4 separate regions of the Homo sapiens genome follow, and regions 2, 3 and 4 are each linked to region 1. Evidence: fine-mapped expression QTL. A gene starts in region 1. Each other region holds a variant in brackets. All regions are shown on one strand. Distances are between the middles of the regions.

Region 1 (5,172 bases):
CCTCTCTGGAGGAGAGAGGGCAGAGACGGTCCGAGAAGTTGCAGGAGGGAAAGAAAAAAAAACAACACTCAGTTTGTTGTGTTTTCCTTGGGTTTGTTTTCTTGCCAAAAAATTACCCCCTTTGTCTTTGCGCAAAAGAGGCAATCCGGGCACCTTCTGGTGGGCACCGAGGCGGTGCCAAGGCGCCTTTCTTCAGGGCGGTTTCTATTCCTTTTCTAGCCTCACCAGATATATTTTTAACATTAAAAAAAAACACTATATTTAATTGGTTATGGATCTCTGTTCTCTTAGCACTACTGGATATCACAGAAAAACACATTAGTACAGAGCAATTAGTGCAATGGCAGTAAACAACTAAGGCACTATTAAGCTGTGGGTGATTAAATAGTATTACTTTATATTTTTTACGGTGCTAGACTAAAAGATGGAGATTTAAGATATATATATTTCCATTAATATTAATATAAAATATAAATAACAGGTGTCTTCCACTTCTTCTTAAGGTGCAATTTATACCCAGCACTTCAACCTATAGAGAACTACTTTTCTTATTGAAAAAAAAACTCTTTCTTTATACACTCCAGGGCAATATTTCTTATCTTCATGCACCCGGATATTTAAGCAGAAATATTATTTAATTGGAGTTACGGACTCAGGCGAAATAATGCCCATACCTATATCACCATTAAAAAATAATAATAATAAAGCTTCCATCCCATTGAAATACGCTCTATCGTTTCTATCTTTGCAAAGAGCGAATCGGGCATTATGTGGTGAATTGACTGCAGGCCCGGAAAACAGGCGGGCGGCGGGTGGGCTGCGGCCCTGGGGCTGGGGCCGGGCCGCGTGCACCTTGCTGAGGCCCACCTTGGCCCCGGCTCCCACTGCAGCTCAGGCCGCTCCTCCTCCGTGTGTGTAGATCATCCTGGAATTCTGGCACATCTTTCCTCGGCATCTGATTAAGTTAACAATGTGCTGCTATTTGCATGCAGATTTGCCGGGGCTTTCTCTCCAGCTGCTCCCAGAGACTTGGTCTTTCTCTGCGTTGTGATAGCACAGCAGTCCCTAAATGCAATCTTTGTCAGACCCAGGTGTGCTCTCATTGAGGACGCCTTCGTTCCAAGCAATTTTTCTTTCTGTAGCATTTATAAGGCTCTATTATAGTATAGCCACATCTGGAGGAAAATTCTCCTATTAATTATATACTTTTACCACTAGGAAGACACATTCTAAAAGATACCAACATTTTTGTTGTTGTTGTTCTTATTTCTTTGACAGGCTGCATTTTATTTTATTTTGTTTTGTTTTTCCAGGCATTTCAATATTTAAAGAGCCATTAACCAAGGGGTGGGGGGTGTGAATTTCTAGGAAAAAAAAAAGAACAACAGAACTAAAATCTCAGTGTCAGCCCTGCCTTACCTCACAGGGACAAGTCAGGGGAAAGGTGCCAACTGAGAACTCTCAGAAGACCTCCAGGCTGGACAAGGGATTCAGGATGAGGGCCTGGCCAGTGGGGAAGAGTTCCGTTCTACTGGAGTTTAAAAAAAGGTCGGGGGGAAGAAAAGCACAAGTGCTATTAACTTTTAACCTAGTCTTCTCCCAGGTGGACATTCAAGCATGTCACCAAATCGCCAGACAATTTGATTTCTCTAACGTCAAAAAGCAGAACCCAATTGGATCAGCATGGTGATCCCGATGCGGAGTTTTCTTTGTGTGGTATGGTAATTTTTCAATTAGGTTGGAGACAGATTAAAAGCAAAATTTGGAGCTCAGAATTCATGCTCATCTTTCAGAAAGAGACAAGAATCTTTGCCCAGGGAGTCTGAAAGTTACTTTAGAAGCAGGTGGGTTGTTTTGTTTGGTTGGTTGGTGTTTTTGCTTTGTTTTCAAATCTTTTGGTACAGTCAGATTAGATGGGGGGGGCGGGTGATGGAGAGAATTAATGTAGGAATTATAGGAAAAGTTTTAACCATCGGATGGTCCCTTTCTAAATTATAATAAATTTAAAGGGCTATAATTTTTTATTCAAAAATTATTTTGCAAAAGGGTGTGTACTTCGTGAACAAGAATCCATGCATGAGTATGTGCGTGTCTGCATGTGGGTGGGTGCATGTGTGGGTGTTCTATGCTGGGGAGACTGCACGCACACACACTTGCACACACTCACACACTCACACACAAAGAAAGCTGAATTACCTTGAGAACAGGGAAAATGGAAATGGAACCATTTTCACTTTTCAAGACAAACTTCATCAGGTAAAAATCCAAGCAAGGTTTTGGTCACTTGAGTCCAGATCCTATGATGACAACGTGGAAACTCTCTTCTCCAGACTCACCTCCCCTGTTCCAAAGCTGGCCTCAGCAAAATCCCAGGGCCGTGTCCCGGCAGTACCAGGGGCGGCTCCCAGCAGGCCACGTGTGAGCAGCAAAATCACACAAGAGAGGCCTTTCTGAGTCCTGCCTCTGAAGGCTGGAGTCACTGCTCCCAGCTACTAACTGCCTCTGCTCACTGGTGCTAACCCCTTTCCCTCAAAATGACCAATTGTTTTCACTCTCTCTGTACAGAGGCCAGAAAGGCCCTGCAATTAGGGCCCATCTTTGGACCATGCCTCAGCCTCAGTTTTGTCAGCTCTGAAATGGGAAGAGCCAATCCCATCCTAAGTACATGCATGAAAGACTGTCAACCCAGTTCTAAATAGAAATGATAAATAAGGGTAAATTTTACTCTGATTCTTTTTTCTTAGGTCTCATTTCCTCCAAGCCTTGGTGCTGAAATTAACTGCCCTTCTTTTACCTTACGAAAACAAGCAGCGGATTCTAGTTTCATGACACTTAAGGAAGAATCTATGCAAAAAGGTGGCAGATATTAAATGCATAGATTCTTCAATGTATATATATTCTCTCTTTATATATATACACACACACATATATATGCATATATATATATATATTCTCTATATATGCATTTAAACATATAATGCAAAAAGAAATAATTTATTTTCTAATTTGACTCTTTTGGGGCCGCTGCCTTTTCCATCTCCTGCTGGCTGGCAATGCCCCCTCCTTTCCCCTACAGATATCCAGATACCCTCCTGCAAAAATACAGCAGGGAGGCAGATGCAGTGATACTAGATTACATCACTGGATAGCATGTGGCATTGAGGGGAGAGAAAAAAAAAACAAAAAAAAAAAAACAAGAAAAGACAAATGACATTTTGCTGCTATGGTGTGCTATTTTAGTGGTGATGGCTTGACTTTTGGCCCAAACGCATATGCCAATGGCAAGGCTAACTCCAGGGACTCACAAAAAAGAATGTGTGTTCACAGCTGTACTGTACACCAATACAGATTACATGTTTTCAGTGTTGCGGCCACAACAGAATGCTAATTAACATACTGGAGTGATGAGAGCGGCTGCAAAGGCCTTATTGTTCCATTATTTCATGAAGCCCAGCTGCCTTTGTTTATGTCACTTATCCTCTCGTGCCACAGGTTTTTACTCCAAAAATACTATCCCAATACAGCGTTAATATTTAAAAAACAAAGAGGTGGCAGATTGTCATTTTTGTGTCAGTCTCAAACTGCAGAACTGTTAAGCTGTTCTGGTTCGGTATTTAGAAATAATTTAACAGCCATATTCAGACACTGCCTGCATTCTAACATAATGGCTGAATACTTGAACCAAGCAAATGCATAACTATCCTGACATCACTTATGAGATTTAGATTGGTCAGTTAATGGAAGTCTTTACCACAATCAATACCATAACAGCTTCTTGAAATGAACGTGATTTTTTACACGGAGTGCTGCAAACAATAACTACAGAAACATACTACCTTTGTACCCAGCACAAAGAAGCTAAAATGCAAAATTAAGAAGCAATTACGTTTTTGCAAACTAATATTACAGTTGATTATTAAAAACAAACACTTCCAAAAATACGTACTTATCATTTAATAATTGGAGGGCATTAATATCCCCCGTACCTGATTAATCATTTTTTTACACTTTTTAATAGCTGTTTCACCTACTGGCTACATTATCAGCTTGCTGTTAAGTATTGATATTGATGATTGATGTAATAATGATTAAATAAAAAGCCATATTTAGAGCTTGATTTTTATAACATTCTTTGTCATAATCTTCATTCAAGAGAACACTGTCTGCTGTTTAAATTAGTTTTTTTCCCCTCTGTTTTGCCTGGATTGTGCATAAAAGTGACATTCTATAAAATACAGGTTTCCTCAAATAGTGTTCCGCCAGCAATCCATACATTCTACAGTAATTTGCAATCATGGTCAGGGGAGGTTGTTGGCTCAAGTTCAAAATGTTTATGGCGCATTGGTTCCCCAAAGAACAAAAACACCCTGGGGTTTTAGTTCAAATTTCCCTAAATGCACCTTTATTGACATCAGGTACAATAGTTGGGGAAATACGTAATACCCCAGCACAGACGCCATTCAACCAGAGTCATAAATTAAGTTAGAAAAGGTCTCCCCTAAAAAGTATAGCACTCCACTAATCAAAGCCACGCTGTCGCCATTGCTACAGAACACAGAAATCTTCCCAACAGCCAATTGAGTGAACAAGCCATAGTTGCTTTTTAACGAGTTTAACTGGTAATCTCAGATAAATGGAGAACTGTTTGAAGTGTCTGCCTTCTCTAAGGCAGTAATGAGAGGATTTACAGCATTCTGCATCCCAAACTGCGTATAACCAAGAGAATGCCACAGGTGTGTCACCATCCACGTTAGAGTGCTTTCTCAGCGATGGCCATCCCCCCACTGTGGACACAACATATATTTTTTTTAATTGGATCCAGGAGCTAGCTAAATTATCCAACTGCTCTGTGCTTAAACCCCCAGCTAGCTTATGTACCAATAATAATAAACTTTCCATAATAACAGCCCAGCCTATTACTGTTTTTTTTTCTCTTAATCTAAAAGTGGAAACACTTTATTCTGATTGCAGCCACTGAAGAAACTCCTGAGTTGGTTTCCTTCTAAAAAAAAATTGCTCAAGAATTACAGAACAGACCCAGGTTAACAATATTCAATTATGCACACATGTATTTTCAGAGGAGAACCTGCTTATCTTATGGTACAGGGAGAAAATAATGTCATAATTCATCCCTTTGCAATTTGTGGAAGAATTTTGTCTTTTCCTTTACAA
Region 2 (5,172 bases), 31 kb before region 1:
AGCTTGGACAACATGGTAAATCCCGTCTCTACGAAAAATACAAAAATTATCTGGGTGTGTTGGCGGGTGCCTGTAATCCCAGCTACTCGGGAGGCTGAGGCAGGAGAATCGCTTGAACCCAGGAGGTGGAGGTTGCAGTGAGTGGAGATTGTGCCAGTGCACTCCAACCTGGGATACAGAGTGAGACTCTATCTCAAAAAAAAAAAAAAATGTTAACAGTGCCTCTGCATCAAGGGCCTCCACATTCTTCAGTAAGTAATCCAATTTCCAGTAGGCAGGATGCAAAGGTGGAAAACGATTCGGGTGTGGCGACTGATCACACCGGTTCTGAAAATCCACCTTCTAGACTACAACACTGCGCCCATAAACAGTATCAAGAGGCAAGGGAGAAGTGCAGTCTTAAATGGTTTGGTACCCATGGAGAAGCTTTCCCTGGAAGACTCTGGTCTGATGGCTCATCAGACCCATCAAGCCTGAAGCCAGGAGCTAGGAGATGGTTTCCTAAGGTTCTGTTGAATCTCAGAACCTATGGAGTTCAGGCACAGGGAGACCCCAAGTTCAGGAAGTAGCAGTGCGGTGTTATTATATATACATAGGTTTTGTCTGCAGTTCCTGGCTCATAACTCCCATGGTCCCTGTCAGAGTCTTTTGTTGTAATGTTGGCAGTATTAGGCCTCAGGAAACAGAATATTTCTGATCTTTTTCTGACCTCCTTTCACCTGCCCCAAGGCAGGACTCTAATCTTCCCCCATCTTTCTGACTTGGGGTCTTAAGACCCTCCCCAAAGAGGGTCTCACCCTATATTCTGAAGGATATGTATGACATCATGAAGCTTCCCTAAAAACCCAAGAGGACTGGGTTCTGGGAGCTTCGGGATAGCTGAATGCCTTGAGGTTCCCGGACAGTGGTGCCCAGGGAAGGCGTGGAAGCTCCCCACCATGCCCCATACATTCCCCTACGCCTCTCTTCACCCACATCCTTTGTAATATTGTTGATAATAAACTGGTAAACATAAGTAAATGTTTCCATGAGCTGCTCCGGCAAATTAATAGGACCCAAAGAGGGGGTCATGGGAACCCCAACGTGAAGCCTGTTGGTCAGAAGTTCGTGAGGCCTGGACTTGCAACTGGTGCCTGGGGCAGGACCGTCTTGGGGACTGAGCTCGCAACCTGTGGGATCTCTGGGTAGATGGTGGCAGAATTGAATTGGGGACACCCAGCTGGTGTCCACTGCTGGGTGTGTTGAGGAGCCCCCCCGCCTCCGGACATTTGGTCACAGAAGTCTTCTTCTGTGTTGATGACTGTGGTTGTAGTATAAGAGAAGAGGAAAATCATGGTTGGAGAGTTTTCTAGAAACAAACAGCAATGGTAACTAACGTGGTACTTCCTGGGCACTCAGTCCTGTTCTAAGTGCCTTCACATAATTCTCAAACTCTATCAGTGAGTTTTACTACTATCATATTCGTTTTATGGTTGAGGAAACTGAGGCACAGAGAGGTTAAATAACTTGCCTAAAGTTTCACATCTGATCACTAGATTGCTGGGACTGAACCCCAGACTGCCTGTCTCCACATGCCATGCGCCTCACTGCTAAGCCATCACTACCTCAAGTGGCCTGCAGTTGAGGATGCTGGAGTTCCAGGGATGCTGGGGTGCCAGAAAACAGTGTCCCCCTCTGGCCTGCCCCAAATACAGAATCTACACCAAGGCTGTCTCCACATTTCCTTGGGGAGTCTGGGCTCTGCGCCCAGACTAGAAGCCTCTTGAAGGCAGGATGGCCCCCTTTGTGCCCAACCCAGGTCTGAGCACAAGGTAGGCAGGCCCTGCGTGGGCAACGCTGGCCTTACGCTACAGTTCTTCTACCTACCATCTTCCCTTGCAAGACTAGCAATAAGAAACGTGGGATGGAACAAATAGTGCACCGTGATGAGGAGATTCTAAATGAACAGCAGAAAAAAAAAAAAAAAAAAAAGAGGAAAGGAAAGGAAAGAAAAAAATGTAGAGGGGAATGCTGAAGGGCTTAAATTGCCTGAATCCACCCTTCAATTCCCATGAGTTCTTCGGCCAAGTGGAGATTACATTTACGGTCATCACCAGATGTTCACTGAGAGCCTACTATGTGACCATCCCATCCCTGAAGGCAACAGCAGCCTCCCATCAAAAGCCTGGTGCAGACACCG[T/C]TGTCAAGAGCACAGGAAGAACGAGGGGGACAGCATGCCCAGGGACAAAGAGCAGCTGGACCTTGCACTTGGAGACTCTGGCAATAAAACTGCAGCCGAGTGCAGCAGCAGACAGGGAGGCTGTGGAAGACAGCAAGTGGGTCTTCTTTCTAGAGCTGCAAGTTTGCAGGAGGTATGCATTTCACCAACTTCAATAAAGCGGATAGCAGCTCACTTTAGTTTCCATGCACTAGCCCTGGACCAGCCAAAGAGTTGGATTTCAGCAGAAAGAAGAGAGAAGCCCCTGTAGACTTCAAATTCTCCCTCCTGGACCTGATTGGAGATAGTCCTTCTTACCCAAATGCCACAACGATGACAGTTTCCTCTGCTTAAGAAATAGGAAAAATAGAGAAACACATTCTTGCGCAGCCTTTGACCTTTGGCTCTCACTTTCCTCCTTTCAGCATTTTTTCAGGGAAAGAGTTTAGATTTTCAAAGGCCTGCCTTGTCTGCGTTGTGCATTTTCCTGAAATGATGTAAAGAACAACTTATAAAAAATATTGTAATGTGGGAGAATGCAGACCCTCTGACTGAGCTCAGCGGTTTGTCTACAGTCACTCCGACGTCTGAAATGGCCAGATCACATATGCTTTGGAGGCTGGGACTAACAATATGTTATTGATGCCATTTTAAGCAATGCCAGGCAGCATCTCAAAGTGCAGCTCGTCAGCAGCGGTGTTCTCCTCCGCAAAGCATCCCTCCCCATCCCTTCTGTATGTGAAAGCCCAGAGTTGCAGGCATTCCTACCAGGGGGCCAGGGCACGGCAACACCAAATGTAAACATTTATTCCTTGACTCCAGGGAGAAGTCTGTCATGTCAGGCTTTGGGTTTGGGCCTCACAATAAAGCCTTTGTCTCTGCAAATGGCCAGGGTGGGGTGGGGGTAACATTCCCCTCCGACCCAGTCTAAACAGGAGAGCAGTTTAGTTTAAATCAAATTTTTGAAAATTATATATATATATATATATATATATATTTTTTAATTTTAAAAAATGTTTAAAAAGCAAGCAACACACATGTTTTTACAGTAAGTCACTGGGCTTATGAAGTAATATGACTCGAGATGCTCTGGAGGCGGCAGTTTGAGAATTGCATCTTTAAACCCACGTCGGCCGCGGTTTGCAAGCTTTTAAAACACAGAAGCCTGTCGAGCCGTACAGGGTTCCCGGTGAAAAAAGGCAAATGGAAGGTGGCTGGGAGAGGTAGAACAGGTTGTTTCAAATGATCAGAGTCTCCAGCACTTTTAGGAGGAAAGAAATGAATGCTGCTTCCTCCTAAAAGCGTAAAATGGAATATTCTTCCAGCCATTCTGAGACTGCCTTAGAAGTATTATGCTGTTACAGATTTCAAAAGGTTAGCTTCAATGAACCTGACATCAGTATAACCCAAAATAACCCATTCAAGAGAAAAGTAAGAAATAATTGCTGTTTTCTCTTTTTTTTTCCCCTCCACTATATTGCTATAATGATTTTGCATAACAGATTGAACAAAGTGCTGTTGTGACAGGTGGTAGAATTCAGCTAGTAAGCACCGAGACAGGGTTCAATTTAGTTTGTGAATCCTTTAATTGTTGTGCAGCTAATTAAAGAAGGTTCTTTACACTCGCAAGTGTTTACCGTTGCTAGTATGCATACATGAAAAATTAAATTGTGCCTTCAAGGGCTGAGAACTATAGAAAAATCATAGCTGAGGCTGCAACATGCTTACCAGCTCAAAATAGCTGCTTTTCACAATTGGAATTTGTAAAACTTTTTGCTAAGCAAATATAGAGCTAATTAGAAGTGTTCGTTGGACCAATTAACATTTAAATAAATAAGCCATATTGCACATTTCACAGTCTTTATTTAATGATGCTTCTAACTCTTTGGAAAGATTCTCTTAAGTACAAATAAGTTGTCACAAAAATGAAAGATAAAAATAACCCCATAACAGTATATGCTATTTTTTTCCTTTTCCCTTGAAGTCCTTTACTAAAACTCTGTACCTGTTGTTGAAGAAGAAGAAAACACACCTACCACCCACAAATCTAGCTTTTCCTTTCATCTTCTCCAGTTACCTTTCCCCCTCTTTGAATAGAAATAGAAAAACATATTTTATTACTATTTAAATGGTTATGATAATTCTGTTTACTTACGGTTTTTACCCCATTATAGAAAAAATCTGTTTCAGAAAATCCCACTTTAATCTGAGAACATGTGTAAGCAAGGAAAAGAAATGAAAAGAGACCCAAAACAGTAGTGTCTGGGGAATGTGGTAGAGAAAGCAGTGGGTAAAGTCCTTCACACGTGCTCCTGTGCAGAGCAAACCCCACTGGGGTGGTGAGCCCAGTTCCAGTGCTCACATCCATTCTTGGTGGAGGCCAGAGGTACTGGGACATGGGGAGTCTAACCCGGATCTTGAAGTCCTTCTTTCTTATTCTCAAATATCAAGATATGTAGACCAGACTGAAGCAGGAGGATAGCTGGAGCCCAGGAATTCCAGGCTACAGTGAGCTCCAACCTAGGTGACAGAGTGAGACTCCATCTCGTAAAAGAAAAAAAATAGATAGATCAATGGAACAGAATGGACAACTCAGAAGTAGCCCCCCACACAGGTAAGGCCAATTGATTTTTGACAAGGATGCAAAAGCAATTCCATGAAGGAAGGAGAGTTTTTTGCAGCAAATGGAGCTAGAACAACTGGATATCTATAAACAAACAACAACAACAACAAAAAGAGAACCTTGACCTAAATCTCATATCTTACACAAAACATGGATTACAAATGTAAATATAAAGCATAAAACTATGAAACTTTTAGAAGATAATATAGGAAAAAAATCATAGGAACCTAGGTCCTGGGCAAATGGTTCTTAAATATGATACCGGAAGTAAAATTCACAAAAGGAAAAATTAATAAATTGGATTTTGTCAAAATTAAATTTTTTGCTCTGCAGAAAACCCTGCTAAGAAGAT
Region 3 (5,172 bases), 160 kb after region 1:
AATGTTGATGGAACTAATCAAGAAACTAATACTGAGGCAGGAGGATCTCTTGAGGCCAGGAATTTGAGACCAGTCTGGGCATCATAGCTTGACCCTGTCTCTAAAAAAAATAAAAATAATAATAATTATCTGGGTCTGGTGGCACTCGCCTGTAGTCCCAGCTTCTCAGGAGGCTGAGGTAGGAGGATTGCTTGAGCCCACGAGTTCAAGGCTGCAGTGAGCTGTGATCTCACCACTGCTCTACAGCCTGGATGACGCAGTAAGATATCTGCCTCTAAAAAAAGAAAAAAAAGAAATTAATGAATCATATCTAACACTTAAATAATTCATACTATGTGCCAGGCACTTATTTTTGTTTGTTGTTTTTTTGTGGGATTTTTTTGTTTGTTTGTTCTGTTTTTTTATTTTTTGAGACGGAGCGTCACTCTGTCTCCCAGGCTGGAGTGCAATGTGCAGTCTCGGTTCACTGCAACCGGCTAGGCACTGTTTTAAGCACTTTACCTACACTGACCACTGAATGAATGAATGAATGAATGAATGAATGAATGAATGAATGCACATATGAACAGCATTGCTTAAAATGTGTTGCCACCACTAGAAATTAGTTGCAACACTTTAAAATTAATGGTTCTTTTCTCTGATATAAAGTAGTCCTTGATGCACATTGAAGAATAATTAGAAAACACAGGAATGTACAAAGATGATTATATCTTTCTTAATCTCACCCTGATAGCCTTTTGTATCTTTCCTTCCGAGCATTTTTCTGTGCATATCAATTTTTTGCAAACTTTGAATCATTTTTATAAACAATTTTGTGTCCTGCTTTTGTTCTCTAACCTTGTAGCACAAGGTATCTCCCCATGTCATTAAATATTCTTTGAAAACATGATTTTATAGCTACATAATGTTCCATCAAATGGATGCAACATAATTTATTTAAACAACCTCTTATTTTGGAGCATCTAAATTGTTTCTATTTTGTTGTTGTTGTTGTTGTTGTTCTCTTAGAAGTATTGGAGAGAGCATTTTCATGGTTAAAGCTTTGTTTGCGTCTCTGCTTGTTTTCTTAGAATCCACTGACAGAGGTGAAGTTGGATCGGTGCATATGAAGGTTTTGGGGCCCCTCCTAGATGCTGCCAACTTTCTTTCCAAAAAGGCTGCCCCAACTTGTTCTTCCCAATTTGTTTCTCTTCCTGTGTCTCCTCCAGCCTTTTGCCCATTTATGCACAGGAGGCTTTATGGCTTACCTTACAGACTCATAAGAGGATGATAAACCTTAGGCAGTCACTATTGCTCCAAATTAGTTGGACTTTTAATTCTGATGGTGGTGCCATTTTCAACAGGTTCTTGTTGTCCCCGGCTCACCCTTCAGCTCTAGGGAACCCCAGGGATGTCTCTCAGTGCCCACTGAACCTTGCTGGCTTCAAATAAAACAATGTATCTCTTTGCTTTAGCTCCAGATGGGCTGTGTATCCAAGGGAGGTATGTGTCCAGCCAATATTCCTGATATAGTCATTCTAGGGCTCCAACTCCCCTGCCTGCTGCCCACTCAGAAGCTCTGCTTCTAGATCTCCCCAGACCCCTCACCCCTTGCTAACTCCTCGAGTTACTTTTGCCAATGGTGGTGATTTTTCTATTGCTCTAAAAGAGAAGGGGAGGAGAATACCATAAAGCAGCAGAGCACAGGTTCTGAGGCCAGACCACCTGGGTTCAAATCCCAGCTCCAAAATTTTAGAGCTGTGTGACCTTAGGCAAGTTACATAACCTCTCTGTGCCTTAACCTCCACATAAGAAAAAAGAGCGTGTTTAGAGAACTCAGTGGATTAGCCCTTAGCATGGCACCTGGTACATAATAGGCCTTTACTATTCTTATTCATGATGTGTACATGTTTTATGTGGATTTTCTAAATTAAATAAGAATGACAGTCGTTTTCATAATGTCCCATGTTATTTAGCTTTGCACTTCAGGGCTGTAGAGATGTTTGTGTGGTGTTCTGTTTCCAGCATACCTGGCAAGCCCTGGAGGCTCCGCTCCACACCTGGCTAACGGGAATCTCCATCAGCCTCTGTCCCGGCCCCCTAGTGAGCAGTTCTTTCTGCCTATGACATTCATTCAACTCATTCAACGTAAATACAGAAGTCCATCACAGCATCCGGAGCACTTCCTGTTAGTAAATCGTTTAGACTGTCAGATCTGGTTTTGCAGGTTCAGAATGGCCTCACTGCAAACTCCCAAACCAGTGGCTTACCCCTGTCACCTAGCTTTTGTCACAAATGGCTTTGGCTTTCCCCATCAGCCTGAGTCAGGAACCCACAGCATGGGTGATGCGCTTTCTCTTTCACAATAGGCATTTGCAGGT[G/C]ACGCACTTTACAAAAGGGAACTTGATTTGGGGACTGCATTGCATCTGGGCTCCCTCTTGCCCCTTTGCCTGTCTTCTGTCATCTCTGTGGAATGCCTATTGGGCTATGGACAGATATTTTATGAATTACTTATTCATCTTTTCACAAGTACAGCAGGGAAGTTGGCCTTCCTGATCCTGACTGGTGGAAACACAGTTGCTAATGTAAGAAAAAGTCCAGCTTTCTAGCAGCAGCAATCAGCTGAATCACTAGAGTAGTTAGAAGTTAACCCAACATTAGGAGGCCGAGGCAGGCAGATCACTTGAGGTCAGGAGTTAGGGACCAGTCTGGCCAACATGGTGAAAATCCATGTCTACTAAAAATACAAAAATTAGCAAGGCATGGTGGCACATAACTGTAATCCTAGCTACTTGGGAGGCTGAGGCACGAGAATAGCTTGAAGCAGGAGTCAGAGATTGCAGTGAGCCGAGATCATGCCACTGCACTTCAGCCTGGGCAACAGAGCAAGACTCTGTCTCAAAAAACAAAAGAAGTTAACCCCCAAAATTAGGTTATGGCTACATCCCCCCTGAATGTACCCCCACAACACTGCCTTTACAAGCAACCATCTGCTGCCATGGCTGTGATGCCCGGACTGTGAATGAAACCCACCCAGTCACCCCAGGAAGCTAGATGCAATGTTTTCTTGTTGTTGTTTTGATTTTGGGTTTTTTGGTTTGTTTTTTGTTTGTTGGTTTGTTTTTTGTTTGTTGGTTTGTTTTTTGAGACTGAGTCTCACTCTATCGCCCAGGCTGGAGTGCAGTGGCACAATCTCGGCTCACTGCAACCTCCGCCTCCCGGGTTCAAGCGATTCTCCTGCCTCAGCCTCCCAAGTAGCTGGGATTATAGGCACCCACCACCACGCCTAGCTAATTTTTGTATTTTTAGTACAGACAGGGTTTCACCATGTTTGCCAGGCTGGTCTCGAACTCCCGACCTCAAGTGATCCTCCTGCCTTGGCCTCCCAAAGTGCTGGGATTACAGGCATGAGCCACCACGCCCGGCCCAGATACAATGTTCTGAGCTGAGGGCTTGCACGATACCCTCAGATGTTTCTGTTCTAACCTACCTGGGCTTTAGGCTGAGTACATAAGCAAGTGAGGGTTTTCTAACGATAGAAGATATGTCTCTGCCACTTGGAAGTCCCAGGCTTAGTGAGAAGCATCTACCATAGAGGACAGGAGGAACACATTTCCCACTGTGCCCCGGGAGGAAGTGTCGCCTCAGCAGCACACAGTGGCTACAGAGCTGCACACCTGGATAAACCCAGGATAAGACAACGTTTGCCAGACGAATTCTGTCGCTGGCTCTCCCACCCCGTCTAAGAATGTGTCCTGTTACATTACGAAAAGCAACACATCAGAACTGAGATTCTGGAAGCCGAGTCCCAGAGGAAAACATTTAAAAGATTACCTTTAAGAATCAATCTCGGCCGGGCGCGGTGGCTCACGCCTGTAATCCCAGCACTTTGGGAGGCTGAGGTGGGCGGATCACGAGGTCAGGAGATCGAGACCATCCTGGCTAACATGGTGAAACCCCGTCTCTACTAAAAATACAAAAAATTAGCCGGGCGTGGTGGCGGGCGCCTGTAGTCCCAGCTACTCGGGAGGCTGAGGCAGGAGAATGGTGTGAACCCGGGAGGCGGAGCTTGCAGTGAGCGGAGATCGCGCCACTGCACTCCAGCCTGGGCCACAGAGCGAGACTCCGTCTCAAAAAAAAAAAAAAAAAAGAATCAATCTCACACCTGGGAGACCGGAAATAAGTCACAATCCAGGAGTTTAAAGACGAAATGAACAACTCGAGTCCTTGACCTTGTGAATGTAGTCACCAGCCAAGAGAGGGCTTTCCTGGGGGAGAAAGGGGGAGGGCAGGCTGCCTGCACGTGGAGGGTTTGGGTGCGAAGTATCATCTAAGACATGGATGTTGTGAAAGAGAGAAGGGTGGATTTGCATTGGTCAGGGAGAGTGAAGGCTGCACGCCAGTGTGGTGCACATCCAGCTCTGGGCTGCACCCCGTGGGGACAAGAAACACTCCATGAGTCCTCGTGCTAAAGTCTGCTATGCACGGCCTCAGCCTGGCCATTAGCGTTAAAGCAGGAGCTCTCCACGGGCAGGGACGGGACTTTTCCTCTCGGTGTCCTCAGCAGTGAGCACAGAGCTGCCACCTCACAGGGACTCAGCGTGTGGCTCTTGAGTGAGTGAGTGAACGAATGCATACCACATTCCACAAAACACCAGTGTCCAGTGAAAGACGACGATTTTTAGAATTTGGGAAAACCTACAGTCATCAAAATTATTTGGTTAATTAGACCTAGCAGATGGGGAAAGCAAAAAAAAGCAGGGTACAAAACTTTATTGACAACACAATGCCTGTTTTATGCATGCATCTATAAATATGCTCGTTCTGAAGACGTGCATGTGACCCACGACATTCCCTGTGAATTAACCAAAGGACAATCACTATTAACACGTGGGTGAGTTCCCTTGCAGCCTCTTTTCTCTAACTGCATCATGCATACTTATTTATGCATGTAAATTTTACATGCAAAAAAATACAAAAACAAAGGTATGGGAAGAAATTCACCCCCATATTAATGGTGTTTCTGGATGGTGGGATTAATCGTGATTTAACTTTTGTTCTTGATAGATTTCAGAGTCTTCTAAATTTTATACAATGGGCATATTAACAAACTTTGTTGTTGTTGTTTTCAGAGACAGAGTCTTGCTCTGTTACTTAGGCTGGAGTGTGGTGGCAACATCATAGCTCACTGAA
Region 4 (5,172 bases), 43 kb after region 1:
CAAGGAAGTGATGAAAATGATGGACCATGATCTCCCCACTGGGTGAAGGGCAGCGGGAAGACAAGGTCCCCTGCAGGGGACAGGGAGGAAGCTGAAGGGTCCCTGGGTGAGCACACCAATGATTGACAGTGGAGGCATCACAAACAGTGATTTGGAGGGAAAGGCAGTGATGGACTCATCATAGGATGGGTGAAGACCAGATTTCAGAGGAGCTCAGGTGTTGGTCACTGTCAAGCCTGGGTGTGGATCTGAAATGGATGGCTAAGGTCAAGTGGAAGAAAAGTTACTGAGCTGAGAAGGTCAAGGAAGCAAAGTCCAGCCTGTTGGATGCATGACCTTGACATTCTTGGTCAATGTCACTGGCCAACAGACCTGCAGAAACTCGGAGTGAACACACACCTCAGGAGACGGTGACACCAGAATCAAGGACATTGGTGACCTCCTTACAAGAGATCTCCTCAAGTCACTTGGCAAACAAATCTGATGGGGAATCAGCATGACCACTGCAGAGACAGAAGAGATCTAAGATTTATAGTATTCAGTAATTATCTAGTAAGAAATGGTCATCTGTCATAAAGACAAATAATATTCTTTTTTTTTTTTTTTTTTTTTTTTTTTTTAAGATACAGGGTCTTACTCTGTTCCCCAGGCTGGAGTGTGGAGTGCAGTGGTGTGATCATAGCTCACTGCAGTCTCAAACTCCTGGGCTCAAGCAATCCTCCTGCCTCAGCCTCCCAAGCAGCTGAGACCCCAGGTGTATGCCACCATGCCTGGCTAAATTTTTTAAATTTTTTGTAGAGATGAGGTTTTGCTATGTTGCCCAGACTGACCTTGAACTCCTGGCCTCAAGCGATCCTCCTGCCTTGACCTCCCAAATTGCTGGGATTACAGGTGAAATAAGGCCCTTTTATTTACCAGTATCAATGACTTGAGCCTGATTTTCCCAGTCCATTGCTGGAAGTGCAGTAGGGACTGAAACCTCTAGTCCTCAATTCCTTGACTGCAATTGTGTGAGCGGAGCAGTGAAGTTATGTTTTGAGAATCAGAGGTCCTAACTCTCTGCTGGCTCAAGCAAGGGCTTCACTGACCCACAGGTCAAGCTTTCTCAGGCTAGGAGCCCTCAGGACCGAAAAATGGACTCCACTTCAATGCCTCGAAGTTCCCTGGCCACCTGCTTCCATTCCTTTCTGATCCCGAATGAGTACATGTCTACAATGGCCATGTCTTGAGAGCAGGAGGGTCAGTGAAGCCAGACCACCAGCTGTTGCTTCACAGATATGGCCTGGGAGAGCCCAAACGTCAGAGTAAGACAGCCATAGACTACTTTACCTCCTAGAAATGGGAGCCTGAGGCCCAGAGTGGCAATGTAACCTTTTCTAAATCCACTGGTAGCAAAGCAAGGCTTGTAACGAGGCCTCCCCATCCCCAGCTCCAAAGTCGAGTGTCCTCTCAGTCCCTCCAATGCCCCCTGCAGCCCAGAAAACTGCAAAGTTTCTCACCAAACAAAGGCAGATGTAAAGTGAAAATGCCCTAAAATGCCAGTGACACATAACCCAGTGTGCAAGAAACTGACCACTCAAGAGTGAGTTTCTGCCTCGGTTCCACAACTTTTGTCCAAGTTGCTTACAGTACCAAATTTATTTTAATATAATACTATTGGCCACAAACTTCTACATGATCGAATTTAGCACAGTTAATATTTAACATGTGGGCACCTGGCGCCTCCCAGCTTTCTGATGAATAAAGTATGTGATCTATTACTCCATATTAACCCAACTCAAAGAAATTAGTAGTGGTGGTGGTGGTGACGGGAGTAATCATAGTAGTAATCATAGGACCAAAGTAGTATTTATTGAATGCCTACTGTATACCAGGCATGAAAATAAGTGCTTTCAAATACAGCATCTCATTTAAATCATAAGATTATAAATTATCACCTAAACCATATTACTTTGCAATATTTTAGTCCATTCTGCTCAATGGATATTTTTTGAAAATCAAGTAGCACAGTACAATAATTCCCAAATCAATTCTGATTTTTCCTCAGAAATTTGGTAGAGAAAGTATCCCCCCACCAAGTGTAGACCCAGTAAGTTAACTTATGCCCCAGAGCAAACTATCCTGTCAGAGTAATAAATCTCCATTTTAAAAATGTGTGTTTTAATGGAAATATTGACATGACCTTAAGAACACATAGCACCACCAAATAGTACAGCTGGGTGCAGAGAGGGAGAGGGGCCTGATAAACTTTTGTCTGTATCACGCCTGGGCTTTCCAAGGTCTGGAACTATCTTTGCAAAAGATAGTTCCAACAAGAACTTTAAACATAATTTAGATGTTCTCTTAAATAAAATTTCATCATCACTTTCATGGCTGTTGCATTGTATTGGTTGATCCCACACACTTTATAGAACAGAACTCCAAAAACTTAACTCCTTTGAAGGTTCTAGCTCTAAGCAG[A/C]TATTCTGTAGAACAGATATTCTGTAGAATAGATTCCTCCCCACCTCCCATTCCCCAGCCCCCCACCTCCAAAATTCCAGCTGAGCATATTTTTCTTCAAAGGGCAAAGTTGACCTAGGATTATGTGTGTTCTCTGTACAAAGGATATGTTTTCAGCAAGCAGGACCGCATTCCTACGAAGCAAAAATGTTCCCTGTAAGCTGATTGCTCCAGTCCTTTCGGACCTGTCTCAATAAAGGCTCTGTTCTGTTCACTTGCTGTTGTGTGGCCCATGTTCTCAGAGGTGGCTTAGGACAGGTGTTTGTCTACTGAGAGCCCGAGAGGGACTCTTGAGGGCTAAGAGGCCTCTCTTAGATAGCTGTTGGCCTTCTTGACACACCGACATTTGCAAAGCAACCCCTCAAAGAAGATCCGTTTGAACAAAACCCAACAGAGCTCCCTTGCATGAGGGTATCCCTCTCTACAGTGCTAATTCCCATCTCTCACTCTGATGATGCCGCAAAATTCTATTGTTGCAGGGGGAAAGGGAGGAGTAGAAAAGTGAGAGAGAGAAATCGAGAACAAAATGAAAGCAGCCAATATTTCTAAGTACCTCTTGATGGTCTCTAATGTCTAAAAGCCACCAAACTAGGTCCAAGTACACCAAGCCCCTGGCAACGCCAGCTTCAAGATCAGCAGGAAAATCCAAAAGGAACCCCAATTCACATCTATGAACATGCCACGATCTTTCCAGAGAGAGCCATGTGGATATTGGGTCCAGCAAATCTCTCCCTCCTATAGGGTGGAATCATCACATCAGACCTTCATTTCTGAAACACACAAGTGGTACAAATAACTATTTGCATTACAAAATGATTCCAATGGAACTTGAGTGATTAGTTAGGGCTACGTGGACAGCCAGAACAATGCATCACCATTTATTGAATACGCAATTATTAAGAGCCAAGTCTTCCCCTCTGGCCATGATGGAGAACCATGGAGTTCTGAGTGAAGATCAAGGGCAGCAGAGAGCCCCAAGAGCAGGTTACACAGAGGCCCATGAGTTCCTCTTCTGCCTTGTCAGGGGCTGCAGAGCTTTTGCTGTGATAGGGACATGAGCTCGAATGAGAATCAAAGTTGCCCTTGGGTAGCTGTGGCCAAGTGTGGCCTCCACCGAAGTCTCGGTTTATTTCTCAAGGAGCTCCTGGAGGCCCAAGTCTTTCTCTGCTCACTTCTTCAGCCATCATGGTCACTGGAGCTGGGCAATGCCTCCCCACCTCCCCTGGGGAGTTCTGCAGAGCTGAACACACACAAGGCACCTTCATGTTCACATGTTCATTGATAAACCAATATGAGAGTCATGATCATCATCAGAGTTGTGAATCGAGGGTTTCTGCCCTCTGCCAAGCATTTGATGTGAATTATTTCATTTCATCCACACCCACCTTACAAAGCAGGTTCCACCCTATCTGAGAGAAGAGGAAACGGGCACAGAGTCTGACCTGTCCCCACTAGTAATGGTGGCTCCAGGAGCCCAGGCTGATCCCGCCTGCTCATTCTACTGACTGGGTAATATAACCCCGTTCTCCAACCTTAAAAGTCATCATCGTTCCTAACTCCACTCATCAGAGGACAAAGACATTGCCCAAAGGATAACAATTCCACAGCTCAGGCCGCAGAGGTGAGAGGGATGAACACCAGGGTCTTAGGAGATCCAAGAGTGTGATCTGAGAAGAACTGAAAAAGAGCTTCCTTCACTTGGAAGGACTGAGATGTGAACACAGAAACCCAAACCCAAGCTAAATGCATGAAAGACACCTCCCAAATGAAGGGTGCATGGCTGCTTCATGCAGGTTTCCAGAACTTCCAAACAAAGCCTGCTGAAGGGTTCGCAGGAACAATTACGGCATGCAAATGTCATGTGACTTTTGTCACTGATCTTTCAACATGCAAAGCTGGGTTCATGTGTCTCCAATTCAAAATCCAAAATTGAAGTCTTATGTGGAGATAATTATAAGTGAAAATCAAACACAGGCCTAGAAAACACCCCACTTTCCTCATAAAATAACTGTTCACAGAGAAGAGCCTGGATTCTCAGAGGAAGTCCGGGATGGGATGGACCTCTCTGGATGGGGCAGGGTTCAGTCAGACCTCAGTCATTCAAAGCTGGTGTAAATTCTGGGGCCCTGAGCCCGAGGTCTGAACCCCAAGCCCGAGGAAATATGCACTCCTCCTGGATTAATTTCAACAATGCTGTGTCCTTTAACAAAAGGCTGTAAGCAAACAGGAGATTAAATTGCATAAGGGGGAAAAAAGGCTTTTTATTTTTATTAATGAATTAACTTATTTATTTTTAGAGGCAGGGTTTTTCTCTGTTGCCCAGACTGGAGTGCAGTGGTGCAATCAAGGCTCACTGCAGCCTCCAGTTATTGCTGGGCTGAAGCAACAACACCCAAATCAATAAGACCGCGCCTGAGTAGCTGGGACTATAGGTGTGTGCCATTATACCTGGTTACTTTTTAATTTTTTGTAGAGATGGTGTCTCCCTATGTTGCCCAGACTGGTCTCAAACTCCTGGGCTCAAGTGATCCTCCCGCCTCAGCCTCCCAAAACACTGGGATTACAGGCATGGGCTACTGCGCCCAACTAGAAAACAAAAAAAAAAAAAAAAAAAAAAAAAAAGCTTTTTATAAAAAAAATCTCCCAGTTAAAAAAAAATCATCGCGTGTCTTT

Evidence for each region. PIP is the estimated chance that this variant, and not a neighbour inherited with it, causes the effect.
Region 2: its variant is the best candidate, but not a certain one, in a credible set for the expression of ZNF536 in lung (TOPMed, PIP 0.85).
Region 3: its variant is the best candidate, but not a certain one, in a credible set for the expression of ZNF536 in fibroblasts (GTEx, PIP 0.77).
Region 4: its variant is the best candidate, but not a certain one, in a credible set for the expression of ZNF536 in thyroid (GTEx, PIP 0.87).

Annotation. Positions count from the first base shown.
Region 1 is chr19:30,369,581-30,374,752 of GRCh38, reverse strand. It overlaps ZNF536 (zinc finger protein 536), which reads right to left and starts at 2,369. Exons shown (of 5, transcript NM_014717.3): 1 at 2,197-2,369. RefSeq lists an enhancer at 824-1,325.
Region 2 is chr19:30,400,819-30,405,990 of GRCh38, reverse strand. The region is part of intron 1 of ZNF536 (zinc finger protein 536); the gene reads right to left. Among named protein-coding and RNA genes, the nearest start is that of ZNF536, 31 kb to the right of the region's middle. The variant T/C (reference allele first, on the strand shown) is at 2,180.
Region 3 is chr19:30,212,029-30,217,200 of GRCh38, reverse strand. No RefSeq gene overlaps it. Among named protein-coding and RNA genes, the nearest start is that of ZNF536, 160 kb to the left of the region's middle. The variant G/C (reference allele first, on the strand shown) is at 2,361.
Region 4 is chr19:30,326,741-30,331,912 of GRCh38, reverse strand. It overlaps a transcript of ZNF536 not described here. Among named protein-coding and RNA genes, the nearest start is that of ZNF536, 43 kb to the left of the region's middle. The variant A/C (reference allele first, on the strand shown) is at 2,461.